Homo sapiens: one gene and its partners. The protein of the gene in region 5 purifies or fractionates together with the protein of the main gene of each other region. This does not show direct contact. Each region holds a gene or a part of one and is shown on either strand. Other genes may lie near its edges.

Region 1 (4,266 bases), on a different chromosome or scaffold from region 5:
TTAGAAAACTCATTTTATAGTTAAATTATCTAAGGGTTCCATAGAAGGCTTTAAGAAAAAAAAATTATCCAAGGGAAAATACTCTTTCAAACAGAAACACACACCGACTCCATTCAATGGAAAACTTTGTAACTAGAGGTACCAAAGATAACCAGATAAACAAAAGATAATTTCAGTGTTAAAATCATATGAAACGTGTGTGTGTGTGTGTGAGAGAGAGAGACAGAAAGACTATCAGGATAAATAGGGAGTGAATGAATTTTAGGATAGTTACAAAACTGAAACATCTTGTAAAAACGTATTACCTTACAATAGTTATTTAAAAAGTTATAAAATAGTTATTTCCATACAAATACCTTATGGAAAGGTCCCAGAATTTTCTCCCCAGCATAGGATTTGAAGTTCTGGTTTACAATATGAGTTATCATAAGCCGAGGAGCTCCAGCTTCATTGGTCATTGCTGGAGGCGGGGGAGGAGGAATGCTGTTCAAAATCTCTTCTAAACTTCTATTATCAAGTTCCTCACTTGCAGTCTCTAAGTCAGTGAAAGGAAAGGAAAACGAAGGCAAACGGCGGGGGAAAAGCCTACATTAGTGCAATTAGTTCGGAGAACTAATGACTGCCCATCTTTAAAGTAGGGGATGGAGGGATGTTATTTATGAAACTTAGGAGTCTATATTTTCCACTTAAATATGTTATTATCTTAAACTCACGGGGGTGACTAAACCTTCAGCTTGGTTTTACTAAAAAAGAAATTCTTGAAAGAAATGCCACCGGTCACAAAATTCTATACACCTATACCTCTTAAGAGTCAAAACACTACATCATAGAGCAAATCTGGGAAAACCGTAACAAGCTATTTCCTGCTGCCTATCCTAAACAGGAGGTTAAATCCTAAGGCTCTAGATGCAATTCTCCGTACCGCTGAGCACCTGGAACCTTCATTTTGGAAACTCATGAACTTCAGCGACACTGCCACGAGGGTTTAATAATGTCACCCAACTCCTGGACTCACAAAAGCTACAGTGGCTTCAAATAAATTATCGTCTTCTCTTTAACGGCAATCTAACACCACGGAGGTGAGGTTAGGGTCAAAAAACTTTTCATCATGCTCACATAGTCATATTGATTGTCTCTGGGAAAAAAGTCCACTTGCTCTCTTGATTGACCGTCTCGATTTTAGCGGGAATACAATAAAGATATTGAATTTTTGTTTGTGACCTGTACCATTCCACAGGTCACAAACAAAAATTCACAACTGAACCCGTTTGCTCGCCCCCATCCCTTCCAGCGCCGTTACACCAAAATTGCACGGGAATCCTATCTCAAAGTTGCCAAATGGCTTTCCTGAGCCTCTACCGGACCGACACCGGACCTTCAGATGTCAACTCCGCGCTCAACAACCCCAGCCAGCCTCGGGCTGGGCGCGTTTGCCTGCCAGTCCCACAGCGCGCGTTCCCGCCGAGTCGCGGCGGGTCACTCACCTGCGGCGGTGGCTGGGCTCTCCGTGCGGCCGGACGGCGGCTCAGGCTCCGCGTCGCTGCTGGCGCCGTCAGGGGACGGCGGCGGCGGCCCTTCCTCTCTGCGCCGGGCAGTGGAGGGCTGGGTGCCTTTACGGGGCATGGTCGCTGGGGCCGGGGGACAGCCGGGAGCAAGTCAGCCCGCGGGCCGCTACACCGCGCCCGCCCCACCCGGGGAAATCTCGGTCCACCGGCTTCCGAGAGCCCCGCTTAACACTCCGCTTAGAGGCAGCGGGACTTCGGGAAGGGAGCCATCGAAAGACACGAGTGGCAAGAAGGCAGGACTGGTTTCTTAACAAGACCTATGTAAGTGGGAAAATCTAGACGTGCCTGAGGATCAATCAACGATTGAGCAACTGCTTAGTTTGTTGTTGTTGTTTTTAAGGCTCTCCACCCGTCCGCCCATAGTATAAGCGTATAATATTCGCTAACGCATTTCTAATTAAGGAACTCCCATACGCCAGCATTTCCGGACATTCCCACGCTTTCGGGGCCAGGGATGCAAGCGCGCACCGACGTGGAGAAACGAGTTCGTGTCCGGGTCAGGATCCCGTGGCTAGCAACTCTCTCCAGAGCGGTGAAGACTAACTGGCGACTCGCCGCCCGCTTTCGTCTGCCCGCCCTTTAGCTCCTGGCGCCGTTGACGGCCCGGGGCATAACGAAGTCTCCCTCCTCTCAGCGGTCGGACCGCGAAGGGCGAAGGCTGGGACTAACCACTAGCAACTTCAAGTCGGACGCTGGCAGCGCTTGCTAATTTTGGAGTGGCAAGAGTTTGTCTCTCCAGCTCCCCAGGCGGAGTCCCGTTGGACAGTAAACCATGAAAGGTCACCAGCGAAGGCTGAGACCCGGTGACTAGTCCGTTGGCAGAAGGAAGAGGGGTAGGGGGAGACGCCCTTTTCCAGATAGAGACTAGGATTTTTTAAAGAAAAGATCTGCGAGGCTCAGGGCCTCCCCGAGACATTTGAGTAGCTTGGAAAAGTGGCGCCCGGGAGCTGCGCGCGGGAGCCCGGGCCGCCGGGGAGCGGCCGAGGGGGGAGGGGTGACAGCAAGAGAAATCTCCCAGCGGCAGCTTCAAGCCCGGACTTCGCCGCTCGGGCTCAAGGCCTCTATTTTCCAGGCGCTCGCGGACAAGGCAGGAAGTAAGAGCGTGACAACCTGACCAGGAAGAGAAGTACTTTACCTGCAGGACAGTCCACTCAGACCAAGGCTGGAGACGGTTGTGTAGTACCCACCTCCCCGCTCCTACCGGTGTTTCGGCTCCGGGTCCTTCACTCGAAAATGGCGCCTAAAATACAAACTCGAACGGAAATTCGTTACAAATGCGCGCAATGATTTCTGGGATCCACTAATTTGAAAAAAAGTGCGGCGATTATCACCGCCATCTTATTGTCGCTCCTGCGCATGCGCGAACTCCTGGCGGGACCTACGCGGTAGAAGTTTCTACTAAGTGAAAAGGAAGAGCGAGGGATTCTTTTCTCTGTGGTCTACAGCAGCAGCACTATTATTAAAAATATTTGGAAAGACAACCTGGCAAGTTTTGAAAAAGATTTTTTTAAAAACGGTAGGGTTCCGCTCACAGTGGGAGGCGGGGCTCAGTGGTCCAGAAACGCCTCTTCAGAAGAGGGCGGGCTCGCCGAGAGGCGGGGTCTCGGGCCCACTCGGATGACGTGCCGCGTAGAAGTATCGCGGGAAGAGGAAGGGAGCGTAACTCTTAGAAGTCACTATGGTGACGGGGAGGTACCAGGTATTTGAGAGCAATCGCCACCGCTTTCCTGGAACTTGAGGTAAATCCCTTCACCTCTGGACCTGGTGAGAAAAGGGTTTGGAAGTTGTAGCCATCACTGGATCCCATCTTTCCTGTTTTGAAGCTGTGTGCTTCGTGGAGCATCATTTTCTGTCTCCCTGGCGGCAGCGGGGCTCCGGGTGTAGCTTTTGGGATGCGAAGGAGGAAGCCCTAAATTTTAAGGGAGTAGAGAGACAACTGGAAGACCTGGATTCGTGATAGCTTAGTCGACATGTGAATAGCGCAATAATGATTTTCGAGATCATTGGTGTTACTAGTGAAAGGTTTAGGACTTTTAAAATAATTTGACTAAAAGGCTCTTTAGTGGAAAAAACGACTCGCCAGTGTTATGGTTATTTTTATGAGGAAATTATCGATCAGCAAATATTCCCTAAGTAGTGTTTGTATACATTGCCCTGGGTAAGGCATAATTAGAATTAGTAAGCAAGTTTGGCGATTCCTGTTCCCCGAGAACTTAGTTTTAGTGGGTTTTTAACCTGAGGTCTGTGGATCTGGTGGTAGGTGATTGGGCTTCAGAGTTCATAACTCGCCTGACATTGTATACATAATTCTATGTGCATTTTTCTGGGAAGTTAGTTTTCCTACAACTTTATAATCAGAATCTCATACTTGCTCCTAATTCCCTATATTGTTAAAGAGCCACTGGCTCATTTGACTATCTCCAGTATTCATGCAACAACTCTTAAGTACTTGACATTGAGAACTACTAGCCTCCTTTTTTTTTCTTTAACTTTTGCTTACTTAGGGTCTGGCATGTTAAATCACCATTAAATCTCCCTTTTGAATGAATTTACATGATCACTCTAAATACATTATGGTTCTTCCCTGGAAGAGCATGAAGTCAGGTTCAGTGATTCTCAAAAAGGTGTGGAGAGCCACCCCCCTCCCAACCAATTGTAAGAATTTGGTGAGGTTGGGAGACTGGTGTGTATTGCATAAGCG
Region 2 (5,252 bases), on a different chromosome or scaffold from region 5:
AGTCCTGCTCCTGGACCCAGCGCTCAATGCAGATCAGCTGTGCCTCAAGTTAAAGATGCGCAAGACAAGACAGGTGTCTTCTATTCAATGTAAATTAAGAGCAGCCTTCAGGCGCCTGGCTAGTAGCCAATACAGGCCCATGGGTAGACAAAATTTAGACACCCTTGTCTTCTGGTTAATTTATAGCTTCCAGCTCTTACTGTCAAATCACTCAGAAAAAAGAAAAAAAAAGATTAATTACAAAGTTTTGCTTTTATTCTTCATAATAAAAAACTCACAATCTAACTAAAACATGAGAATTCAGATGAAATATTCATTTTCTCACTTAAGCTACAATTACAGAAAGCCTTGATTCCACAGTGAATGCTAATGTTCCATGGAGGCATTTCATTTAGGAGGACCTTCTATTTTATCTGGAGTGTGAGGTTTGGTTTGTAGCTCACTCAAAATAATAAGCATGAGTTAAAACAAAATCCAGCCAGGCACAGTGGCTCATGCCTGTAATCCCAGCACTTTGGGAGGCCGAGGCGGGTGGATCACTTGAGATCAGGAGTTCAAGACCAGCCTGGCCAACACGGTGAAACCCCGTCTCTACTAAAAATACAAAAATTAGCAGGGCGTGGCTAATTATAGGCACACGCCTGTAATCCCAGCTACTTGGGAGGCGGAGGCAGGATCACTTGAACCCAGGAGGTGGAGGCTGCAGTGAGCCAAAATCGAGCCACTTAACTCCAGCCTGGGCAACAGAGTGAGACTCCATCTCAAAAAAAAAAAAACCACCAAATTTTAGCAATTCTGAGTTCTCTCTCAATACCCAACTCCTCACTCCCTCGAAAGGAAAGGGTAAAGAAGGCAGGGAGGGGAGGGGTGAAAGAAGGTTAGGGAAAGAAAAAAGAGACAAAACAACAAAAATCAAACTCAGATTAGGAAGAAAGCCAGCCCTGCACAGCTACGACCACGGAACAATGGCTGAAAGAAACTAAGAGAGCCACAGAGACAAAGCCCAGGCGAGTACAAAACCGTGATCTTACATTCTCTGTAAAGAGCTCCTCTTCACAATGGACTTGGATTGGAAAGAAACAAAAAGTAAAAATCACGTTGTTTTTGGGTAGTAAAATTGTGGAGATATATATGCATATATATAGTTTAATTTCCTTTGCTGCAATAAGGCTGTTTCAGTAAATACTGTTTTCAACATGCAGGACAGAGAACCTATGCAGAGAACAGTCAAAAATACAAAATCCAGTAAGTGCCCTTCGGGAATCTGTATAAATATTTTTAGTATTCAGAAGCAAGGCTTAATAGCTAAGTGAAATCACATCTGTAGGATGATAAAATCACAGCAGCTGTGTTGTACTGGGGCTTGCCAGAGATGGAAGACAAGGGTTCAAATCCCAGCTTTGTCACTTATGGGGCTGAGTGACACTAGGTAAGTTGCTAAATCTCTCTAACTTTCAGGTTTCTCGTCAGTAAAATAGCAATAATAGCATCCCTTACACTGAATTTTAACTGAAAATAATGTGCCAGCACCCAGCAGACTCTGGCACAGAGACATTCCCATAAATATGCTTTAAATTCAAAATAATACTAAGCTTTAACCAAAAAAAAAAAAAAAAAAGTAAAAGGACCTGTCACATTTACAACACTTTACAGCTAAACTGGGACCACACAAATGGAACACAATCTAAACCAACTGCATTCCAGGGGTGCTGCAAACTGCTAGTTCACAAACAATGAACAGCGGCTAAGGTTTCTAACACTAAGTTTCAGACATTCTTTAGCACAAACAAGTTGGAGAATCAGAAAATTAATTCACCATCAAATATTCACTGAGTTGCACAGGGCTCCGTGAGACCCTGAGAGTGAGGCACAGAAGCTGCTCTCAGAGGTCTAGAATTGTGCAGGGGCAGGAGGGACAATGCCTAGGGGAAGCAAAGTGGGGCCAAGGCGGGAGTCCTGGGATCCTGCTTCACTCCTGGCAGGGACTTGCTAACTCCGCCAGGGGCAGCCAGGAGGGAATGGCTTCTGGGCCACACTCAGGATGAGGAGGAGGAACACTCCAGGCAGAAAATGTGTTTCTGAAAGGAGGCAGCAACAGCTGTTAGGCTCTCTTCAGAGGAGGGCGAGGGGGCTGCTGCCACTGAAGCCCAGGGCACAAGGGAAGGAAGAACAGGAAATGAGATGAGAAAAAGGGCCTAGAGCCCAACTGAAAAGGGAGATGGCCCCAAATGAAGGCGTGACTGCAACACTGCAGCCAAGAGCCGCAAGGAGCTGGCGCTGAGGAACGCCAGGAGAGAATGACGACAGAAACCCAGGATGTGGCCCAGGGGTTAGCTGCTGTCTGAGAGGTCTCTGTAATGACAGTGGCCATCCCTACCGCCACCACCACTGGATTCGTCCTCACCCTCAACATTTCTGGCCAGGATGCAAGCTCCCTCCCTGCCCCAGGCCTCTCACGCCACTGCTCCCCACAGCTGTCAGCTGCTCCTTCTAACAAGCGAACCTAATCCTCTCATTCCCTGGCTTGAAAGAGCAGGAGACCTCCAGGACAAAATCAAAACAGCTCTGCCTGCAGCGTCTGGACCCCCGAGGCCTGCTTTCCAGCCTTGCCTCTGCTCCAAACTCCCAACATCCATCCCTCTTCCACCCTCCCCATCTTTGCTTCTGCTGCACCCCCTGCATGGGTCCCTTGCCCCACCCCCACTCACTGCTCCTGCCGCACCCATGCAGCAAACTCTGGCCTTTCAGTGCTTAACCACACGGAGCCCTTGTGCACCACAGGCCTGAGGTCTATCCCTCGGGGGTAAGGGGTGCATTGCAAATTCCTACTCATCCCTCAGGCGTTTAAGTGTTCTTTCTTCCCACTTTCACCCATCAGACTGGCAAAAATACTCAGCATCCGTGAGGTGGTGGGAGACAAGCGTCCTTGTATTCTCTAGTGGGAGTATAAACTCGTGCCAGCTTTTTGGACAGCAATTTGGCAATAGCTCTCAAAAGGTAAAATGCACTGTCCCTTTTCTGGGCTGCCCAGCAGCTGTATTTCCTGCCTCTGTCCGGAGAATTCCACTGCCATCTGAGCTGAGGCTGAGCTTCACCAATCAGAAGCACCCACCTTCCCCATGAGGAACTCTCTGGTGGTGGAAGGGATGGCAGGAAGGCTCAGTTCTGTGGCAGCCAGGGTCCGGCACCAGCTGTGCCCGCAGCATAGACTGAGACACTGTTCTTGGCCCCAAACCCAGTTCTTGCCCTCCCAACTACATTGTGAGCCACCTGCTATACTTTTCTCAAAAATCCCTCTCTTCCTTAAATCATCCAGTGACTCAACTGCTTGCAACAGAGAATTCTGGCCGAAACGTGTACACCTTAATCCAGAAATTCCACTGCTAAGAATTTATCTAAATGAAGTACGTATTTATACAAGTAGACCAAGACACATTTGTTACCAAAATATGAAAAACAAGATGTTCATCAGAAGAAGAATGGGTCAGCAAGCATGGTGTAGCCACATAATACAATTCTGTACAGCTTGCTATTATTACAGAAATTCTATAGGCCCACGTAAGCTGATATAAACACTTCTTCAAAACGAGTTAATAGTAAGGGAAGAATATTATGTATAGCATGAGCTCATTTGTGTGTTTTTTTTAAAGGGGTAACTAGATGACAGAGAAGGAGATACGTGAAAGTTTATCATAACACATTTTCTGGAAAAAAATACAAACAATTCTTAACAGTGGTTACTCTGGAGGGATGTGAAGGAGACTTTTCTTATAGTTCTTTGTCCCACTTGAATGTTCTGTCATGTTCATAAATTATGTTCAGTAGAAAATGCTTGAATGTCACTTGCTCAGAAAGGACTACACAAACACCCACCAGCCACACACTCCTTCCTATTATCCTCTCTAATGACTGTTCTTTTCCTCTGGGGCACTTATCACAATGCATTCTTCTAGGTTCATGTGAATTTACCTGTCTAATACCTGTCTCCCTCACAAGACTATAGGCTCTGAGGCAGACGCTGTGTTAACCACTAATCTTCCCAGCTCCTAGCAAAGTGCTCCGCACTAGTGATGCTTAATACACATCAGACAAATGAATGAAGAGATCCAATCCTCCTTCTAAGACTCGGCTCAAGTGAAGTTCTTCCTGAATTATCCCAGCTTGGAAGTGACCTTTTCTCCCTTGGGTCCCCTCCTGCCCTCGTCAGTAGGTACATCTGTCTCCCCCATTAGACTGAGTATCTGAGGACAAAGACCCTGATATTCACTTCTATCTGTGCTGCCTGCTATAGTGCCTTTACACAGAAGGCACTCACTAAAGAGCTGATGAGGCCGGGTGCAGTGGCTCACACCTGTAATCCTAGCACTTTGGGAGGCAGAGGCCGGCAGATCACGAGGTCAGGAGTTCCGTATCAGCCTGGCCAACACAGTGAAATCCCCTCTCTACTAAAAATACAAAAATTAGCTGAGCATGGTGGTGCATGCCTATAGTCCCAGCTACTCGGGAGGCTGAGGCAGGAGAATCACTTGAACCCGGGAAGCAGGGGTTGCAGCGAGCAGAGATCATGCCACTGCACACCAGACCGGGTGACAGTGCGAGACTCAGTCTCAAAAAAAAAAAAAAGCTGATAAATGAGTGGAGGAACAAACAAGACCTCAAAGTAACAATTTACTTGGGTATTAAAATCAGATGTTACTGATGTCTCATTCTCCTTAATCTGGCATTTTAGGGCAGCAAAACCAGTCTGTGTGGAGTCAGTGGTTTCTAAATAGAATTATTCTATAAACTCAAGAGCTGTGGACCCATCACCCGGAACTCAAATGAGACTTGGACAGACAGGAGGTCACTCTTGGCCAGGAAAAAGCACAAAGTTGGGCGGCAGAAGTAAAATGGGCAGACACAAAGCTGTTTACCTACTCACTTTCAACAACTTTTCCTAATTCAGCTTTATGCTCATGACACAAATTACCACAGTTCACTGGCAAGAGAAACCAATTTTCCCATTTTACAAATGAAGCTGCTTTGTATCAATGTCAAACTTCTTAAATTTGATGACTTTATCAAGGTGACAGAAGAGAACATCTTGAAGGATTCAGAGGTGAAAGGCTGTGGTGCCTGCTATTTACCCTCAAATGGTTCCCCACGCACACGAAACAATGATAGGAATAACAATGTGTGTGTGAGAGGCAGAACACATGTGTCAAAATGCTAACAACTGACACATCTGAGTAAAGGACAGATCAGTGTTTGTT
Region 3 (5,252 bases), about 89 Mb from region 5:
CTTAGGTTTGGTCGAAAAGATTCAGACTCCAGGTCTGCTTTCACTGTAGCAACCTGCTTTGAATTTATGTCTTCCCTTGTAGTAATCTAAAACAGTAAATAGAGGTAGTGCATTAATGTAAACTTGTGACATGCTTTCAAAATTGTCAGACTTTTCAGATAAATAAAGCTTTATATCGTAGAAAATGTGGCTAAATCTTTAACCTTAAGATTTTATAGGGCAAAAGATGGCCCATATCTAATATCTATGATGTAGCCAATGTAGGAAAAGATTTTATAACAATATAAGCAGACGTTTTCTCATCCACTACATGAGGAACGACTGGTAGGAATGATAAATCCCCATATTTCTGTGTAAAGAAGATAGTTGCATGCATCTTTAATTAAGCCCTTGAAGGGCAAAAGTCAGCTAGCTGGCTTGCGCTGTGTGTGTGTGTGTGTGTGTGTGTGTGTGTGTGTGTGTGTGTGTATGCTATTTAAAATAGAATTCTTTCATGCTAACACAAAATTTGTCAAAAATAATGAACAAAACTTCCTGGGTGCCAAAATTTTAATGTAAAGAATAGTAGAATAAAAAAAAATAACTATTTTCTGTGAGTTGTGCATGTATTTGTTTCACTGACAAACGTTACCATTTTTTTAAATGCTTTCTTTTTATAACTTTCTAAACATTTAATTTTTTTCATCTACTTGGACCAAACAATAAATTTTACTGTTAATTTGTTCATAAATTTATTTTTTAAATTAGATTAATGTGTTGCATTACAAAGAATACATGCTTTTTTGCTTGGTGGAAATGATTTCACTGGTATTCTTAAAACGATAAGAATGTTAACTAAGTAAAAATAAAGCTTACTACTGCACAATATATTCTATTGGTGCTTACTTTTTAATATTAATTTTATTTTAATATATAAAACATAATAATATTAGAAAATAAAAGAAATGAAACATTATGAAACTTTTAAATTGGAAAATATGCAGAATTCTATTGGAGCAGATAACTAAAATGCAGCAACGCTCAGCAACTGTGATTCTATATGGGAATGAAATTCTTGCTAAATTATTTTGTTCCTTTAACAGGTTTCTTAACAAACCTGAGCAGCATATATTTGCAACCAATACATGTTCTATAAGTGTATTGTTTTTTGACAAGAAGCTAAATACTCATTCTTTCATATCATCATGTTTCACCCTTATTTTGATGATGTGAAAGGTAAAAAGAAAAAGAAAAAGAAACCCAAGGCAGCATTAGAAGCATTAAAAGAAAAAATTCAGGTCTAGCAGAGCCATGAAAGCATATCTTATTAAGAAGAAAGAAACACAGTATAATAGACACAACTTAAAAATGAGTTTTCAATTACATTGCTTTCTTGTTTCTAAAAAAAAAATCACAAAGATTATTTCACAGAATTTTAAGTAATTTATCCAGTTCTGTGTCTAAACTGTACTATTCCAATGTACTCCTAATACCAACCAAGAATGCCTCAAGAACAGTTTATCCTATTGAGATATTTGATGTGACGCTGATATAAATGAAATAGCCTTAAATAAAATATTTAAGCCTTGCTATTAAATTTTTTATTAGTTTTCCTATAGTACCATATCTTTCAGATTTTGTTTAGAAAAGATTCAATCTCAAAACCAACACCATTCTTCCAACGTTAAATGAATGAAAACTCCTCATCGCTGAAAGAAACACACAATACTGAGAATAATTCTGAAGTGACAGAACATTCTTCAGAATATTTTTCAAATGAAAAGATGACAGAAAAGATAATCCACAGCTCTTCACGGCAATACTATAACCTTTAATACAAAAAGGAATTTAATTTTAGTGCTGCAGTCAAAGCAAATTCTTCAAATGAGATTTGCCATGACAAAGAACACTAAAAACAGGGAGTATTTAGTCTCTGGAGGGGTTTAAACTACTGAAGGGGGCACCTGGAGGCGTCTGCAGAGTGTGCGCAGTTCTTCAGTATTTAGAGCATCGATCCTGCGGTGATACTCAGCCACTGACACTACCTAAATATGGAGACAGGAAGACAATAATTCCACTGACAGTTGAGAAAAACAGCAAAAAAAAAAAAAAAAAAAAAAAAAAGAGGAGAAATTAAAATGGGAAGAGAACTGTAATTAGGATTTCTTCCCCACTCTATGTTGAAAATCCAAGAGATTTATATATCAAACTAGAGTGAAATATCCATGAATGATTTTCACTACTACATCCAACTAGTTGGTATGTAAGGTTTATTTTATGGACTATTCCATATAGATTCAACTTAGTAAATAGAAATTATAGTTTTTTATACAGAAAACACTATATAAAACACATACTTTGCTAACATTAAAGATAACGTCTGAAAACTAAACGGTCTTGCAGTTACAAAGGAAGTGGTAGTTTCAACTACCCCCTCCAAATCAGGTGAGCTCAAACATTATATCCTAATGGCCATGCTGGAAGAATTTCTTCTAGGCACAGGTGACAAACATACCCATCTATAACAGAAACAACAGAGGAGAGAAGAGCAAGAAAACAATATAGAAGTACATTTTAAAACCTATGGCAATAAGAAAAATAAGCTCTAGAAAGTAGAAAATTAGATTTTCAAAAGTATGTCTAATCAAAAGTACCTTCTAAGTATGTCTGCTTCAGCCCTTTAAATGACTTTTTTTTTCCACTTTTTGCCTCTCTCCTGTTTTATTTCTTTATGGTTTTTACTGTATCATTTATTTGTGACTAAAATTTAACAACTTTCCTACATTTTAACTTTCAAAGGAAAACTTTCTATCTTCTATAATTGCCTAGACCAGGCTCTTGCACAGTATTAAATTTGAAAGCCATAAATGACAGATAAACACTATTACAGAAAGCCCACAAAAACAGGTAAGTTTCCTCAGGTTGACATAATAGTTACAGCTTTTTCAGATCATGACATAATTCTAAAAACAGTTACCATACTACAGTGAACGCTAATGGTGTGATAAATATGTGACGATTCTCTTGAGCTATGACTAGTTCCTCTTGTAATCAATCAAAAATGCACAGAGGCTCTGACCACAAAATGAGTTAATCCAACTGGCTCATAAAGAGTTTAGATTTTGAACCTAGGTTTTAAAGGCTTTTTATTTAGCCAACTAAAAGGAACTGGCTACCAGTAAACATTAAGGTAACTATGAAAAGCTATGTAAACTTGTTGAAAGTTCTGAAAGACATGAGAATAGAAAAAAGGAAAAGAGGCTGGACAGATTTCCATTCTGGCCATTATTATTATATTGAATTTTGTGAAGCAACAAAGCATACAATATGTTAGCTGACTCTGTACTTAGAAACCAGAAGCTGTTATTCTCTCTAGCTCTGGGGGCGGATGGGGGGGGGTGTCAGATAAACCTGGGTTCCCCATTGCCTATCAATTTTGTTATAAAACAATGAAAATAGTAAAAGTGCATATCAAATCTGGTTTTATGTGAATTACTGAGGAAATGCATATTAAGGACTGAGTATAGTGCCCAGAACATATTAATGAGAACTACTATTATTCATATGACTTTTACTTGATTACTTTTCACCAATTACCCTGGAGACTAAATGATAATGGCCAAAGAGCCTCCTTATTAATTTTTGGTTTTTATTTTTGAATGAGAATATTTCAGGTTTGACATCTCAACTATTTTTAACATTTTGATTATTCTGAATTTAATTTTTATATTTCAGTATTAGATAAAAATAATGAAGGACTTTCAATTAAGAACAATAGGATTTCAATAAAGATAAAAGAAAAATTAGGTACTAAAAATAAAAAACATCATGGGCTTGCTTTTCTATGCCCAGCAAAACAGGTCTCTAGAAATATTTAATGGCCAATTATATTTTTCTTTCTTTTTTCATGGCCTTCAATCCAATAGTCTCCTAGACAAGGATTGTCAAAAATAACTTATCTAATTCTCTGCTTTCCTTCTATCCCTCCAGTTAACAATTATCTTATATCTATATTCTAAAACTCCTTCATTTACTATAAGAAAAACACTTCCTGGGTGGAAGTGAAATTAAATTATGCTTACAAAAGAGATCAGTCATAACCTAATTGTATCAGCATTGCTGAGAGTAGGAGTTACTAATAAGAGAACAATAAATCGCCATAAGGCTAAGCTTATCTTAATAACACTTGATAAAGTCATAGTTTCTTTCATGTCACAAATCTACTCTTTCAAATTTATTTTTTTCAATTATATTTTTTTCTAGGACTTAAAAACTTTCTGCTTCCTTAACCTTAAACATTTACTCATGCCCTGATGGGTGAGGATACAGAAAACTGTAAGAAAAAAAAAAAAGTCTGTGAGTTAATAGAAAAAAGAGATTTGAATTTGAGTACAGAAATATACTTCCTTCTCTCAAAATAAAGGGATAAAAGAGCTATATATTCCCAGTATATATGAGGAAACTGGAATTACTCTTACATTAATTTTAAACCCTTGGTAAACCATACTCCATGTATACAATTTATTACTTTACCCAAAAGATTAAACCTAAATAAAAAATGAATACATTTCTCCAAAATATCCCTTATCACGCTCTGAATTATTAGGAGTAAACAGTTGAGAAAACCAAGACCTTCCAATTAAAAGTGCATTCACTGGCTAAAAAATCGTTTCTTAAGGAATAAAGTATTTGGATATACTGCTAACTCCTATCTATAGGAACTAAGTACCATGACCTATACTCTGCAGAATTAAATGCCACTCTCTAGTCTTTTCAGTCTTTGACAAAGGACCCTCACAAAGAGAAAGTATTTTCCTAAGCCTTTACTTCTACAGAATTACCAATGGAAAGGCAGGGGTAAATCCACCCATCACTATTACAAATGGACTAACAAAAACAGAGACTAGAGAAAATTCACAGTTGCTGCCAATCCCATGATTAAGAACACGTTCATCTCTTAGATATAAAGAACAATACCTTATGGACGTTCCAGTGTTTCCCCAAGATTACTCCAAAACAAACCCCAAATCTCCCTTTCTTCAATGTCTTGCACACTAACAAAAATCTGCTAGTTATATGTCAATGTGCCATTTTTACTACTTTCTCAGTAAATGGAAATGCAAGAGAAAAAGAAATACTATCTAATCAATGCCACTTACACTTACTTTGGTCTCAAAAAATATGTTAAAGAAGGAAATATAATTCTGAGCTTCTGTATCAAACAAAAAGAGCATACAACAGCATCCTTGAAGTCACATAAGCCGTTGTTCTAC
Region 4 (5,252 bases), on a different chromosome or scaffold from region 5:
TATTCAAACTAGTGAAGTAGTAAGAGTTGGGGGTGGGAACTGGCCCAACTTCAACTTAGACAAAAACGACACAGTGTACACTAAGGGTTGTTGCAGATAGTGGTGGTGGCAGTGGCTCCTGGCCCTGCAGGGAGAACAGAAGCTGGCTGCCGCAGTGGGTCAACCCCTGCCCACTTACTCGGGTCCTCCTGACTGGTTCTCTTCTCTTCTAGCTTCTCCAGGGCCTGTTTTGCACAGCCCTGCAATATCTGGGCACAGATCACTTCGGGGCCCTCTGCCAGTTGGTAAATGAGGGTCACTGCCACCTCTTTGAATGGGATCCAGAGTGGGTCTGGGTGGACAAAGCCTGCAGAGGAGGAGGGAGAAGTTGTTTACTGCAACAAAGGGCCCAATTCTGCCCAAGGCCTTCCCTGAGAGCTCACCTTTTGTGACTGTCTCCCGCAGTCGCTCAAACAACCTGTGTTCCTGAGGCAGCCGGAAGGGGGGGTGACGTTTGCCCAGAGAAGGCTGTGGAGAGCAAGACAACGTGGGTGTGTGTACAGGGTGGACACGAGAATCTCCACTCTCCTTAGTTTGGAACCACCCCCACATACCTTTCTCCTGTCCGAGATGTTGGCAATGGCATGGCACACCTGCTGGGCCAGCCTGTAGTCCTGTGGAAACTTCTCATCCAGCCCTATGCTCACCAGTGTGTCTAAATTGCTTCCCACAATTTCTGGCTTTCCTCTAGGGGAAGGAAGCCACAGAGTTAAAGGCAGTCATGGATTGGACTCATCGGGGGAGAAAGGGCCAATAGGGGTAGGTACCAGCACCTCATGTGGTGTCTAGAGCCGTGGAGCACTATAGCGTGGCTCTGCCGCAGGGCCAGCCTCTTGGGTCCTGTTGCTTTACTGAATCCCACTACTACTAGGCAGGAGGGCTGGTCCTCTCACTATTTGCTTTTCCATTTAGGTGGCGTTATAACTCACAGCAGAGCTCAGTTGGGCCTCACTGTGACAATGTCACTGAAGGAAAAGGAGCCCTCTCAGAACCTTCCTTTGCTCTCCCACCCCATTGCCTGCTAGATTTGAGCCTCACCGTGCCATCATGCCAAGAAGCATGACAGAGGAACAGCGCTCCAGAGGACAGCAGGCGACCTTCTCGGTGGCCCGCTCCCACAGCAGCTGGGTCACTGCTGGTTTCAACTCATCCTTCTGCACAAACTCACAGAGCTAAAGAGAAAAGAAAAAGGGCTCAAGCCAAAAATGAACAATTCCTTGATCTTTGGTCTGCTTTTCTGAAGATGATATTGCGAACCTGAAGTAGACAAAAGTAATACTTAGGAAGAGAAAAAGAAAAGAGGAGGTTCAAAATGTACAGCAGGGTCTTGAGAGGCTTTCCATTCTCTACTTTTCTACTCTCATGCCTTCAAAACTATTTTATTCAAGTGACATATCGAAACTGACCTTTTGAGTTCCACGTGGGTCCATAGTTCTAAGTCTGGAGATTTCTAACAGGTTTTCTTGCCGTTACCACAAACTCAACATGTCCAACATGGAAGCCATCATCCTTCCTTGCCTTTTCATTTTGCCAGTGGTATCAACACTCTATCAGTAATATGTGCTTAAAATTTCGGTCATCTAATTTTTTTACAAATCAGTCACTATTTTTCCTTTAAAAATTTGTCTTCCATTAAGCCCATTCTGCAGTGATTTCTCCAATCCTCAAGTCCAGCCCCTCGTTACTGCCCACTGCAGCAGCCTCCACGGGCCTTCCTTCCCATGGGTTGGTCTCCTCAGCCTCTGCTTCCCCACGTCCCTTCTGTTGCACCCCAGTTTGCAGGTGCTCTCCCCTGCCTCTTGTAGGGCTTTTGCCGGTAACTGACCTATGACATCATGGCCAATCACCACCACCAGGCTCTTTTCTTTTCCCCAGTGAGGAGAAAAATGTGGCTGGCAGGAGCACGCTTCCCAGCGCCACCTCCACTCTCTGTGCCCGCAATGCAAATGCTACAAAGCAGAATGTCTCACTAAAATGCTGGGTGCCTGGCTAACACAGTTAAAGTCCTAGACTCCTGAAGTCATTCAGGGACTTCCACAGTTTAGTTCCAACCTACATTCACAACTTTATTATCTTTTCCAGATTTTTTTTTTTTTTTTTTTTTTTGAGACAGAGTCTCCCTCTGTCGCCCAGGCTGGAGTGCAGTGGCGCAATCTCGGCTCACTGCTACCTCCACCTCCTGGGTTCAAGCAACTGTCCTGCCTCAGCCTCCCAAGTAGCTGGGACTACAGGTGCCCACCACCACACCTGGCTAATTTTTTTGTATTTTTAGTAAAGGTGGGGTTTCGCCATGTTGACCAGGCTGGTCTCGAACTCCTGACCTCAGACCTCAGGTAATCTGCTGCCTTGGCCTCCCAAAGTGCTGGGATTACAGACGTGAGCCATCGCGCCTGGTCTTTTCCAGATAATTTGAACCAGAACACAGTCTTCTTTGTTCTACAATGTGAACTGTGCTCTTTCTTGGGTTCTGTTTGAAATGCCCTCCCTCCTTGCTCTGATTCTCTAAATCCTACTCATCTTTCAAGACCCAGCTTAAGTCCTACCACCTTCAGGAAGCTTCCTTGACCATTCTACCCCAAACCGCTCTCTTTCCTACTCTGTATCCCTCAGTAGAACACAGAAGTTAAGAGTATGTTTTCTAGAGCTCTTATTGCCTGAGTTTGAATCTCAAACTTTGCCACTAACTAGCTGTAACCAGCCAAGTTCAGTAACTTCTCTGTGCCTCAGATTTCTCATTGTAAAATGCAGATAATGCTACCTCACAGGGCTGTCGTGAGGATTAAACAAGTTACTGTGAGTAACGTGTGAGTGCCTGTCATATATTCAATACCATATAAGTGAGGTTGTTATTATTGCTATGACAACCATTACCCGTACAACTCATTCTGGCACTTTATTATCTACCTGCTGCATTGTTCTAAAAATGTTCTGTGGTTTTTCACTACCAACTAGACTGTTGGTTCCTTTAAAGTTGGGAACATGAAAGCAAATAGTCTTATACTTCTTTCTGGAGCTAAGTAAATTGCTAAATACATAGTAATAACTCAATAATACTTGTTGCCGGGCGCTTTGGCTCACGCCTGTAATCCCAGCACTCTGGGAGGTTGAGGCGGGTGGATCACGAGGTCAAGGGTTCGAGACCAGCTCGGCCAACATGGTGAAACCCCGTCTCTACTAAAGATACAAAAAACTAGTCGGGCATGGTGGCACATGCATGTAATTCCAGTTACTCGGGAGGCTGAGGCAGGAGAATTGCTTGAACCTGGGAGGCGGAGGTTGCAGTGAGCCAAGATTGTGCCATTGCACTCCAGCCTGGGCAATGGGGCATGACTCCGTCTCAAAAAAAAAAAAAAAAACAACCAAAATACTTGTTGAATGAATAAAGAAAGAGAAAGCAGGAAGCCTTACAATTTCCTCAAGACACTGAATGGTCCCAACCGAGGCATCCACTAGCAGCAGAGAGAGATTCTGAATCAAAGCCTGGGCCTTGGCTCTGTGGGAACAGCAGAGATCAGCGGTCACTATAAGATTGGGAAGCTGAACTTGGCAAACAGTGATTAGGGCTATCCCACCACAGTGCTACAAAACTGCTCTCCCTGGAAACCGAGCCCCACCCTAAGCCCCACTATGATGGACTGCCTATGGATCTGGAACTCCCCTGGAGAAATGCACCTCTTCCTTTAGGAGACAAGGGAAGTCCTGTGAGAAGCTGACCTTGGAAAAGTCAGCAAAGGCAAAAGCACCCCATATACCTGGCAGAGTCCCCTTTGGGGTTGAGGTAGAGTTGGCGGTAGGCATTAAGCACGGCTTCCCGGACACCAGGCTCCTTAGACCAGATGAGAGGCAGCATACGGCGCACCCCAAACAGGGCCTGGGGTACCCCAAATTGGAAGACCATCACAAAGAATTCAATCACCTCCTGCACCACTGAGAGAACATGTACAAATGTCACCTATCTACTTCACAAAACTCCCCCAATACCTAACGACAGAACCTTTCTGAATGTAGCAAGATGCAAATGGAGGCCTTCCGCATTTTCCCTGAGAATGTCGACTCCTCCTATGATGCCTTATCATGAAATACTATATGCATTAAAATGTATAAGCTGTAAGTGGCTAGAGGAAGCAAACAGAAAAAAAGAACCCCTGCCTTTTTTTTTTCTTTTCTTAAGACACAGGTTCTTATTCTGTTGCTCCGGCTAGAGTGCAGTGGCATGACCACAGCTCACTGTAGCCTCAAACTCCCGGGCTCAAGCAATCCTCCTGCCCAGCCTTCCGAGTAGCTGGAACTACAGGTGCGTGCCATCACGCCCAGTTAGTTTTTGTTTCTTTGTAGAGATGGGGTCTTGCTATGTTGCCCAGGCTGCTCTCGAACTCCTGGCCTCAACCTGTCTTCCTGCTTTGGCCTCCCAGTTTTGTAGGGATTACAGGCATGAGCCATCGCGCCCAGCCGAGAACCCCTGCCTTTTAAAGGAGCAGATAGATATATCAATAAAATATGGAAAAGAACTCCAAGATCCATGGCCGGGTGCAGTGGCTCACACCTGTAATACCAGCACTTTGGGAGGCTGACGCAGAAGAATTGCCTGAGCCCAGGAGTTGGAGACCAGCCTGAGCAACAAAGGAAGGCCCCATCTCTATTGTTAATAAAAATTTAAAAAATTAAAAAATCCAAAAGAACCCCAAGGCTGTCCTTATAGAAAGGGACTCTGGCATACCTGTAGTTGTGTTTTCATACATCATCTTGCTGATGATGCCAATGGCCTCTGTAATCTTCCGGGAGAAGCTGTAGGCATCCTGCAGATACTGTACCAGCATCTCCTGCTTCACTAGTTCATCATTTCCCCTGGATTCCTCAGGATCCGACATATTGGGTTTATTTTTACAGACAGTCTGTCCTGTGACCATGTTTCCTGTAGACTCCCGGGGATTCTTTTCTTGTGTGGAAGCTGCTGGGCCTAAGGAGTTAGAGAAGTACAGGATGGTTTCGTTCAAGGGGATACAGGGGAATCCAACAGCTGTCAACATTCCTGGATATTTACTTATTTATTTTCCTTCTTCTTTTCTTTTGAGATGGGGTCTCACTCTGTTGCCTAGGCTGTGCAGTGGCAATGATCACCGCTCACTGCAGCCTCAACTTCCCCGGGCTAAGGTGATTCTCTCACTTCAGCTCCTGAGCAGTTGGGACTACAGGTGCGTGCCACCGCACCTGGC
Region 5 (5,252 bases):
CCTCCCACCTCAGCCTCCCAAAGTGCTGGGATTATAGGCATGAGCCGCCATGCCCGGCCATATTTCTTATTTTATTTATTTATTTTCCCCCCAAGGACCGTGGAGATTCTATATTAAATCTTTTATTTCTAACTTTATTAAATATTATTGTATTTTTAAAAGAACACTTCATGAAATTACCCACAGAATAGTTTAAAATTGTGCTTTTGATACCTTTCTGCCCTATACGTTAAGTGACAGCAGAGGAAAAGAGGTCATTCCTCTGTAGCCTTTGTTCTTTTTTGTAAACTTTACCTTTGTTTCTTTCCCTTTATGTCATCTCCCTTCATGTAAATAATTAAGAATCAAATTCACTTTAAAGATAAAATTAGACTTACTGTATTAATGTATTAATCGAGGCCAGGCACGGTGGCTCATGCCTGTAATCAATCCCAGTACTTTGGGAGGCTGAGGCAGGCGGATCACCTGAGATCAGAAGTTCAAGACCAGCCTGGCCAACATGGTGAAACCCTGTCTCTATTAAAAATACAAAAATTAGGCCAGGCGCGGTGGCTCATGCCTGTAATCCCAGCACTTTGGGAGGCCGAGGCGGGTGGATCACGAGGTCAGGAGTTCGAGACCAGCCTGGCCAAGATGGTGAAACCCCGTCTCTACTAAAAATACAAAAATTAGCCAGGCATGGTGGTGCATGCCTGTAGTCCCAGCTACTTGGGAGGCTGAGGCAAGAGAATCGCTTGAACCCGGGAGGCAGAGGTTGCGGTGAGCAGAGATCGTGCCATTGCACTCCGGCCTGGGCGACAAGAGCAAAACTCCGTCTTAAAAAAAAAAATACAAAAATTAGCTGGGAATGGTGATGCACACTTGTAATCTCAGCTACTTGGGAGGCTGAGGCAGGAGAATCGCTTGAACCTGGGAGGCAGAGATTGCAGTGAGCCGAGATGGTGCTACTGCACTCCAGCCTGGGTGACAGAGCGAGATGCTGTTTTAAAAAATATATATATAAATTGTCAAATAGCACTCTCTTTTAGCTACATATGGGTAAGCCAAAAGGTAATCTTGACAGCATTTCATTATGTCTTTTAGTAAGCATTTTATTTATTTTTCAGCTAAAGGTTATAGTGAATTCTCTGAAGAATATGATAAATACATTCGTGCCAAGTGGAAAAATTATGCAGGTGGTGGATGAAAAATTGGTAAGAGATATTATTTCTCACAATAAATGTTAAGCACATAGAAAATGCGCTGTTATTTATTTAAAGGCATAATTCAGCAACCTCTTCGCAGGGACTTGGGCAAATCTGCATGAATCTAGCTCACTGTCAGAACTTCAGAGGGACTTAAATTTGGGGAATTGGTAATATTAGGGTTACAGCATAGCAAATTATGGTTTCGTAAAAGGGGATGGGACTACATTACGACATTGGGCAAATAACCATATTTCATCTGGGAGTGTGGTATTTCCTTCCCTTTATGTAGTGAGTTCACTATTGAAGACTTGGTTTTTTTTCTTAAGTGTCTCAGGGACATCCAGAGATTTTTTTTTTGTAGATATGAGCAAATGACATACTCAGCCTGGCCCCTTATTCTGTAGAGTTCCTCAGTAGCTCTGACCCTGAAACTCATTTGGGCTGAGTGTTTCTGTGCAATCACCAAACCATTTCATTTTCATCCTCATCATGCAGGAAGACTCCATTTCTCAGCCCCGTTTTTGTTGACGCAGAACCAATGAAACACCTAGGGCCTGGCCCCTAGAACTGTTAAAGGGATCCTCATTGCTCTTGATGGCAGATTTTGGGCATTAATGACATTTGGGGTTGGGCAGCTTTTTTTTTTTTTTTTTTTTTGAGACCTCATCTCACTCTGTAGCCCAGGCTGGAGTGCACTGGCATGATCATAGCTCACAGCTGCCTTGATCTCCCAGGCTCAAGGGATCCTTCTGCCTCAGCCTCCTGAGTAGCTGGGACTACAGTCACGTGCCGCCACACCCAGCTACTTTTCTGAATTTTTAGTAGAGACGGAGGCTTGCTGTGTCACCCAGGCTGGTCTCCCAACTCCTGGGCTCAGGCGATCTTCCCGCCTCAACCTCCCAAAGTGTTCTCCCAAAGTGTTGGGATCGTAGGTGTGAACCGCCATGCCCGGCCTGGGTTGGATATTTCTTTGTCGTGGGCTTGTCTACATTCCAGGATGCCCGGCCTGGGGTGGGTGTCTCTTTTTTGTGGGGCTGTCATGTGCATTGCAGGATGTTTAGCAGCTCAGGATGCCCGGCCTGGGGTGGGTGTCTCTTTTTTGTGGGGCTGTCATGTGCATTGCAGGATGTTTAGCAGTGTCCCTGGCCCTTACCCACTGGATGCTGGTAACACCCCCTCAGTTGTGACAACCAAAAATGTCCTTAGATGTTACCAAATCTCCCGTGGTCGAGAATCATTGCCCTAGCGGCTGAGTGCTGTGGCCACATCCTCCCTATGACACTTGTACCTGCCAAGCACCAAACCCATTATCCCTCACGTGCATGCTCTCGGAGCTTTTGTTTCAGGCTATCCTTTATGTTCATACTTACCGGACTTCCTCAAAACAAAAAAATGCTGGCAGGAGCAAAAGAGGATGAGGCCCCCACGTTCCCCGTATGCCTTAATCTCCCCTCTACTCTGAATGTTATCAGGGAGGGCAACATTGCAGAGAGTTTTTGTGCCACGCCTTGGAATCGGACAATACTGGGTTTTAAGGCTGGATCAGTCACATACTAGCCTTGTGTCCTAGGGAAAGTTTCTTAACCTATGAAACCTCAGTTTTCTCATCAGGGAGAATAATAATTACTAATATATATTTCATATGGTGGTTGTAAGGGTTAAATGACATACTGTGTATAAAGCATAGTGCTTGGATGTAATAAGTGTTTAATAAATACCCATTACGTCACATTTGTTTGTTAAATGGCTGGAACATTCCACTTGGGGAATGCTTTGAGTTCCTAGGGAGAAAAAAAATATGTTTAGGTGACATTACATGTAATTACCAAGTTGGTTAAAAAAGTGAGATTCGTGAATTTTAAGCAGATTATCTCAGCAAAAGGCCGTGAACTTAAGTTGTGATCTGGATGTTAGTAGTTGCCATTGAGAATAAATATATGATGTCCACCACTGAATTTGCTCAATGTCTCTGGTTTGCTAAAAGAATGCAGTTACTTCATCTTAGCTGAAGATCAGCCATTAACCATGACACAGGGCTATGGATAGAATAGTGCAGGTTTATCTCTGTGAGTGTGGGAAGGAAATGGTAAGAACGGTATATGCCAGTGGCTAGAGGGTGAATTCGTGCAGAGAGATAAGGAGTGCTTGTTATGATGTTTTTGTGGTGTGGGTCAGGTTAGGTCATCCAAGTGGAATTACTCTCGTTCCTGCCTTCTCTGGAGAATGATGGAAAAATAAGGCAGGAAAAACAATCTGAGAATCTGGTCTCTGTATAGGGGCCCAATATTCAGTATTACATAGAATCTTTTTATAACTACATGATGTAAAAATGCTTTAAAAAATAATTCCTATCACTTATTATGATAGCAGTATCTAGAAAAAATTATATGTCCAAGAACTAGATTTCAAAGCATGCTTTTATTATATTTGTTTATATTATATTATATATTTTTTATTGTTATTATGTTAAATGCTTTTATTAATATATTTGTTTTCCAGCCTGGCCTACTTGGCAACTTTCCTGGCCCTTTTGAAGAGGAAATGAAGGGTATTGCCGCTGTTACTGATATACCTTTAGGTAAAGTTCACTTAGAAGCTTTAAAAAAAAAAGTAATTAAATTCTTTTACAAGTTTCCATTGAGGTGTGATATACATACAGCACAGGTGCTGTATGTCTTAGATATACAGCACAGGTGCACAGGTCTTAGATATACAGCTCAGTGAAGCTTCAGAAATGCATGCATGCATGTAGCCATGACTCAGATCAAGATACGGAAGAGCCCAGCACTCCACGATGCTCCATCATGCCCCTTTGCAGAAAATACTGCCTCCTCCAGTAAACACTATTCTGATGTCACTATAGATTAGTTTTGCCTCTTCGTGAACTTTGTATAAATAGAACTGAACAATATGAACTGTCCTGTGTGATTTCTTGTATTTCATTATGGGTGGTGTGCTATTGTATCAACAGGGTATTTGGGTGGTTTTCAGATTTGTGATATTAACAATAAAGGAATTATAAATATTGTAGTACATTTTGGGGGTGTCTGGGTACTCATTTTCTGGATATATACCTAGGAAGTGAACTGTTGTGTTATAGAGTAATTGTGTGTTTAGCCTTATAGATTCTGCCAAACAGTTTTCCAAAGTGATTCCAGCAGTTGACAATCAGCAGAGTATGAGAGTTTCAGTTTTCTCCTCTTGATAATTCTCCTCTCGATAGTGTCAGTCTTTTTTTTTCCTTTTTTTTTGTTAGTGTCAATCTTTATTTGAGCCTTTTTGTTGAGTGTCGCAGTATCGCATTTTAGTTTCAATTTGCATTTCCTTGATGATTAATGAGATTGAACAGTTTATTGACTTTTTTTTTTTTTTTTTGGTTTTCTTTGTTTCTTTTGGAGAAGGGCTTGTGAAGGTCTTTTGCCCTTTTAAAAATTAGATTGAAGGAATTTTTTACATACTTTGAATATAAGCCCTTTGTCAGATATATGGATTCTGAATATCTGCTCCCAGTCTATGACCTTCATTTTTATTCTCTTACTTTTGTCTTTTGATGAACAGAAATTTTTAATTTTAGTGAAGTCTAATATCTCAGTCTTCTCTTTTATGAGTAGTGCCTTTTGTATCCATTTAAGGAATCTTGGCCTACCCCAAAGTCATATATATATGCTTATATATTTTCTTCTAGATGTTTAATGTTTACTTTTTACATTTAGGCCTATCATCTATTTTGAATTATTTTTGTATATGCTATGACTTATGGGTCAAGCTTCAGGTTTTTCTCATGTGGTATATCCAGTTAGTTAAACAGCATCAATTCAAAAGGCTATCCTTTCCTCAGCAAATTGCAGTGGTGTCTTTGATATAAATATACAATACATATATATATACACACACACACACACACACACACACACAATGTGTATCTGTATATACAATCAGGTGATTGTATATATGTTGTTTTGTTTGGGGAATTAAGTTTCATTTACATATTTGTCTTTTTGTCTTCCCTTATATCAATACTATTTCACCTCAGTTACTAAAGCTTTATAGTAAGTCTTCAAATTA
Region 6 (5,252 bases), on a different chromosome or scaffold from region 5:
GCCCAGATCGTGTCATTGCACTCCAGCCTGGTGACAGAGCGCGACTCCAACTCAAAACAACAACAACAACAACAAAGTAGGAAGAATTAGGTGTCCCCTTGGTATTAAGTTGCATTTTTACAAAAGGTCTCTAAAATATCCAAGGTGCTTTAAAAAGGTATCTTGTGTTTTTGAAAAAACAGAAAATGAGCAATTGCTTATGTAGGGGAGGAAAGAGCTGATATCATAAGGGTCACGGCTGACAGCCTTAAACAAGAGACAGATTAACAAGAGAGAAGCATAATAATTTATTGAATCATAGGTTTATGTGACATGGGAGCCTTCAGAAATGAAAACCCCTTAAAGATGCAAGGGAAATGATCTGATTTTATGCTTGGAGTCCATGAAGCAGGGACAGATGAGCTAATGGAAATAGACTGAGTGGGGAAACCCAGCAAAGCCTGTCCACATTCTTCTTGGCCTCTCTGTTGTAGCGTTTCTTCCTCCCCAGTATGGGGTAGGACCTCTTTGGAATGAGGGTCTTAATTTCTTTATGGCCAGCTGTTGTATAGAAAGGTGGTTGAGAGGAAGGTTAGAGTCATATTTTTTGGCTTTATGGCTGGCTTTGGGGGGAAAAGGGTTCTAGTTTCTATGACTTGCCTTGGGGGAGTATGAGGGGTGAGAGACAGGAGGGCAGGAGAAGGTCAGAGAGAAACTTTGCTTCTGAGGCCTTCATTTTTGGGTTTTGTTTTCTGAGCCCCAACACATACAACCTAATCACCTAAATATATTAAGACATAACATGGTGTATCTTTGACCAAATTAAGATAGAAATCTGTTTTTTTTTTTTTTTTTTTTTTTTTGGAGACAGAGTCTCACTCTGTCACCAGGGTAGAGTGCAATGGCACGATCTTGGCTCATTGCAACCTTCACCTCCTGGGTTCAAGTGATTCTCCTGCCTCAGCCTCCCGAGTACCTGAGACTACAGGTGGGTGCCACCACGCCTGGCTAATTTTTGTATTTTTAGTAGAGACAAGGTTTAACCATGTTGGCCAGGATGGTCTTGATTTCTTGACCTTGTGATCCGCCCGCCTTGGCCTCCCAAAGTGTTGGGATTACAGGCGTGAGCCATTGCACCCGGCCATAAGATGGAAATCTTAGTGGTGACAAATAAAATTTAGATCTTAGTTTAAAAAAACATAGTCAATAATATATTCAATTTTATAGTCTGCTCTCTTTTTCAGGTAACATAAGCATTTTCTTTCTTCCTTTTTTTTTTTTTTTGAGACACGGTTTTACTTTGTTGCCCAGGTTGGAGGGCACTGGCACAATCTTGGCTCACTGCAACCTCCACCTCCCAGGTTCAAGCAATTCTCGTGCCTCAGCCTCCTGAGTAGCCGGGATTACAGGTGCACGCCACCACACCTGGCTGATTTTTTGTATTTTAGTAGAGATGGGGTTTCCCCATGTTGCCCAGGCTGGTCTCGAACTCCTGAGCTCAGGCAATCCGCCCGTCTTGGCCTCCCAAAGTGCTGGGATTACAGGCGTGAGCCACCGTGCCCGGCCACATAAGCATTTTCTTTTTTTTTAACTTTTTTTTTTGAGACGAAGTCTCGCTCTTGTCCCCCAGGCTGGAGTGCAATGGTGCTATCTGGGTTCACTACAACCTCTGCCTCCCGGGTTCAAGCGATTCTCCTGCCTCAGCCTCCCAAGTAGCTGGGATTACAGGCGCCTGCCACCACGCCTGGCTAATTTTTGTATTTTTAGTAGAGACAGGGTTTCACCATGTTGGCCAGGCTGGTCTCGAACTCCTGACCTCAGGTGATCCGCCTGCCTCAGCCTCCCAAAGAAGCATTTTCTTATACAAAAATTTATTAGGCATAATGTGACTTGTACGAATGTATGCCAGTTTTCTTCACCATACCTCTACGGCATTTTTCCATTTCGGTAACTTTTACAAAGAGAGTCATTTGAACAGTATAACAGTGCCAGAATAAGGTATAATTAAAGCACAGTTTATTTGCCCCTTAATCCTGCAGGAAAGGTGAAGTCCAGTGGAACATAGACCTTGTCTTTTTGTTTATCTCCATATTCCTAGGACTTGGAAATATGTCAAGCATGTAATAGATGTTCAAATAAACATTATATATGTAATATATGTATATATATAATTTATTTATTTATTTATTTCAGACGGAGTCTCACTCTGTTGTCCAGACTGGAGTGCAATGGTGTGATCTTGGCTCTGGGTTTGGATTGACAATGTTTTAAGCTATAAACATAGGTCAGATAGGTGGGTGCCCTGGTGACTAGTGAAGATGTGCGATGGCATTGAATGTGATCAACTGTGTTGTGTAGAGAAAGGTAGGCCCAGGGACTTAGGGAGGCCATCTGGGATGGAACATGTATATTTTGAATAGCTTCAGTTTACTCAGCCTGACCATGGTCAGCTAGTTCAAATGGAATTCACAGCTCTGACGTGTGATAACTTTAGTTAAGATAGTTTGTTTTGAAAGGTAAGCAGAGGAAACCACAAAATCAGAATGGGCATTCCTTTGAGGAGGACAAATAAGAAGTGGGTAACTGAAATTGTTCCTACCCGAATGCATTTGTGCTGAATTTCCAAGTATGTAAAAAAATTGTGAAATTACAAATGAAAGTGAAATTTATAGTTATTACCTTTTGTTAGTTACTGTCTCTCTCTCTCTCTCTTTTTATTTTTTCTTTTTTGGTACCGAGTCTCACCCTATTGTCCAGGCTGGAATGCAGTGGTGTGATCTCAGCTCACTGCAACCTCCGCCTCCCGGCTTCAAGTGATTCTCCTGCCTCAGCCTCCCATGCAGCTCATGTAGCTGGGACCACAGGCACACGCCACCACGCCCGGCTACTTTTTATATTTTTAGTAGAGACATTGTTTCGCCACGCTGACCAGGATGGTCTTGAACTCCTGACCTCAGGTGATCCGCCCGCCTTGGCCTCCCAAAGTGCTGAGATTACAGGCATGAGCCACCGCACCTGGTCTCTCTTTTTATTTTTGAGACAGGATCTTGCTTTGTCACCCAGGCTGGAGTGCAGTGGCACAATCACTTGGCTAACTGCAGCCTTGACCTCCTGGGCTCAAGCAATCCTCCTGCCTCAGCCTCCCCAGTAGCTGGGACTACAGGTGTGTGCCACCACACCTGGCTAATGTTTTATTTTTCTTTTGTAGAGAGGGAGTCTCACTATGTTGACCAGGTTGGTGTCGAACTTCTGACCTCAAGAGATCCTCCCACCTCAGCCTTCCAAAGTGTTGGGATTACAGATGTGAGCCACCATGCCTGGCATTATTTTTCTTTTTCTGTAACTGTAATTTTATATTGTGGTCTTACTCAGTTGCCCATTTGCCTGCCATGAGTACACAAATAATACTGTTTATGGTCTACTTTCACATACATGGTGAAATTACAAGAGCAGAAGGCCCCTGTACACACTCAAGGGAAAAACAATAGTACTCAAAGTAAAGAAAATCAAGTTATTGGGCTTCCTATAAAACAAAAGGGTTTGAATCAGAAAGCAGCAGAAAAGTCAAATAAATTTTCCTTATGACTGTCAACTTAAAAATCACAAGATCTATAAATTTAGAAAGGAGACTTTCTTTTTTAAAACATTTTCTTTTCTTTTTTTTTTTTTGAGACAGAGTCTCACTCTGTTGCCCAGGCTGGAGTGCAGTGGCGTGATCTCAGCTCACTGCAACCTCCGCCTCCCAGGTTCAAGTGATTCTCCTGCCTCAGCCTCCCGAGTAGCTGGGATTACAGGCGCATACTACCATGCTCGGCTAATTTTTGTTTGTTTGTTTGTTTGTTTTTTTTTTGAGACAGAGTTTCGCTCTTGTCACCCAGACTGGAGTGCAATGGTGCGATCTCAGCTCACTGCAACCTCCTCCACCCAGGTTCAAGCAATTATCCTGCCTGAGCCTCCTGAGTACCTGGGATTACAAGTGCCCACAACCACGCCCGGCTAATTTTTGTATTTTTAGTAGAGATGGGATTTCACCATGTTCGCCAGGCTGGTCTTAAACTGCTGACCTCAGGTGATCCACCCGCCTTGGCCTCCCAAAGTGCTGGGATTACAGGTGTGAGCCACTATGCCCAGCCTAACTTTTGTATTTTTTAGTAGAGACAGGGTTTCATCATGTTGGCCAGGCTGGTCTCAAACTCCTGACCTCAGGTGTTCCGCCTGCCTCAGCCTTCCAAAGTGCTGGGATTACAGGCATGAGCCATTGCACCTGGCCAAAATTTTTCTTACCTTTCGAGTCGGAGTCTCACTCTGTTGCCCAGACCGGAGTGCAGTGGCACGATCTGGGCTCACTGCAACCTCTGCCTCCCAGGTTCAAGTGATTCTCGTGCTTCAGCCCCGCAAGTAGCTGGGATTACAGGTGCCTGCCACCACACCTGGCTAATTTTTTATTTTTAGTAGAGACAGGGTTTCACCATGTTGGCCAGGCTGGTCTCGAACTCCTGATCTTAAGTGATCTGCCTGCATTGGCTGCCCAAAGTGCTGGGATTATAGGCGTGAGCCACTGTGCCTGGTGACTTTATTTCTTTTCTTTTCTTTCTTTCTTTTTTTTTTTTTGAGGCAGAGTCTTGCTCTGTCACCCAGGCTGGAGTGCAGTGGCACAATCTCGGCTCACTGCAACTTCCGCCTCCTGGGTTCAAGCCATTCTCCTGCCTCAGCCTCCCTAGTAGCCAGGATTACAGGTGTGCACCACCACACCCAGCTAATTTTTGTATTTTTAGTAGAGACAGGGTTTCACCATGTTGGTGAGGCTGGTCTCTAACTCCTGACCTCGTGATCCACCTGCCTCGGCCTCCCAAAGTGCTGGGATTACAGGGGTGAGCCACCACGCCTGGTTTACTTTATTTCTTTGCAGGCTGTAACAGCCTGCAAAGGGGCCATCCCACAGGCTGGGAAGCACACGTTTTAAAGAGACAGGGTCTCGCTATGTTGCCCAGGCTGTTCTCAAACTTCTGGCCTCAAGTGACCCTCCTACCTTGGCCTCCCAAAACCAGAGGCAGGCACTCTGAAGGAGGGTTCAGTTTTATGCTGAATGGGTTGGCTAAATATACATATTCAACAGGTTACAGGAGGAGCTATGAATATTCATGAAGGTGGTCCTGACTCATGTGTATTGAATAAACATGAAAATAGCATATGACCCCTGTTCACTTTGGGGATGGAGACTTAACATTTAAATGAATTTCAGTTAAGCCCTATGCATCAAAAGATCTTTCCAG

Evidence for each region.
Region 1: the proteins of ASAH1 (region 5) and SMC4 fractionate together in Homo sapiens (co-fractionation; one large-scale study listed by BioGRID). This does not show direct contact.
Region 2: the proteins of ASAH1 (region 5) and PSMB7 fractionate together in Homo sapiens (co-fractionation; one large-scale study listed by BioGRID). This does not show direct contact.
Region 3: the proteins of ASAH1 (region 5) and OXR1 fractionate together in Homo sapiens (co-fractionation; one large-scale study listed by BioGRID). This does not show direct contact.
Region 4: the proteins of ASAH1 (region 5) and NCAPD2 fractionate together in Homo sapiens (co-fractionation; one large-scale study listed by BioGRID). This does not show direct contact.
Region 6: the proteins of ASAH1 (region 5) and CTPS2 purify together in Homo sapiens (affinity purification with mass spectrometry; one large-scale study listed by BioGRID and IntAct). This does not show direct contact.

The regions. Positions count from the first base shown.
Region 1 is NC_000003.12:160,398,184-160,402,449, reverse strand, and holds the start of SMC4 (structural maintenance of chromosomes protein 4), read right to left. Parts: upstream 2,801-4,266; 5' UTR 2,701-2,800; intron 1,892-2,700; exon of another isoform or gene 1,629-1,891; 5' UTR 1,624-1,628; coding exon 1,485-1,623; intron 536-1,484; coding exon 357-535; intron 1-356. UniProt on the Homo sapiens protein: Central component of the condensin complex, a complex required for conversion of interphase chromatin into mitotic-like condense chromosomes.
Region 2 is NC_000009.12:124,397,410-124,402,661, forward strand, and holds part of PSMB7 (proteasome subunit beta type-7 precursor), read right to left. Parts: intron 1-5,252. UniProt on the Homo sapiens protein: Component of the 20S core proteasome complex involved in the proteolytic degradation of most intracellular proteins. This complex plays numerous essential roles within the cell by associating with different regulatory particles.
Region 3 is NC_000008.11:106,734,292-106,739,543, reverse strand, and holds part of OXR1 (oxidation resistance protein 1), read right to left. Parts: intron 2,025-5,252; coding exon 1,944-2,024; intron 87-1,943; coding exon 1-86. UniProt on the Homo sapiens protein: May be involved in protection from oxidative damage.
Region 4 is NC_000012.12:6,521,542-6,526,793, reverse strand, and holds part of NCAPD2 (condensin complex subunit 1), read right to left. Parts: intron 4,997-5,252; coding exon 4,757-4,996; intron 3,967-4,756; coding exon 3,792-3,966; intron 3,533-3,791; coding exon 3,448-3,532; intron 1,212-3,447; coding exon 1,078-1,211; intron 727-1,077; coding exon 594-726; intron 508-593; coding exon 423-507; intron 347-422; coding exon 179-346; intron 1-178. UniProt on the Homo sapiens protein: Regulatory subunit of the condensin complex, a complex required for conversion of interphase chromatin into mitotic-like condense chromosomes.
Region 5 is NC_000008.11:18,065,733-18,070,984, reverse strand, and holds part of ASAH1 (acid ceramidase isoform a preproprotein), read left to right. Parts: intron 1-1,106; coding exon 1,107-1,193; intron 1,194-3,686; coding exon 3,687-3,765; intron 3,766-5,252. UniProt on the Homo sapiens protein: Lysosomal ceramidase that hydrolyzes sphingolipid ceramides into sphingosine and free fatty acids at acidic pH.
Region 6 is NC_000023.11:16,705,439-16,710,690, reverse strand, and holds part of CTPS2 (CTP synthase 2), read left to right. Parts: intron 1-850; exon of another isoform or gene 851-880; coding exon of another isoform or gene 881-967; intron 968-2,172; exon of another isoform or gene 2,173-2,272; intron 2,273-3,193; exon of another isoform or gene 3,194-3,282; intron 3,283-5,252. UniProt on the Homo sapiens protein: Catalyzes the ATP-dependent amination of UTP to CTP with either L-glutamine or ammonia as the source of nitrogen. Constitutes the rate-limiting enzyme in the synthesis of cytosine nucleotides.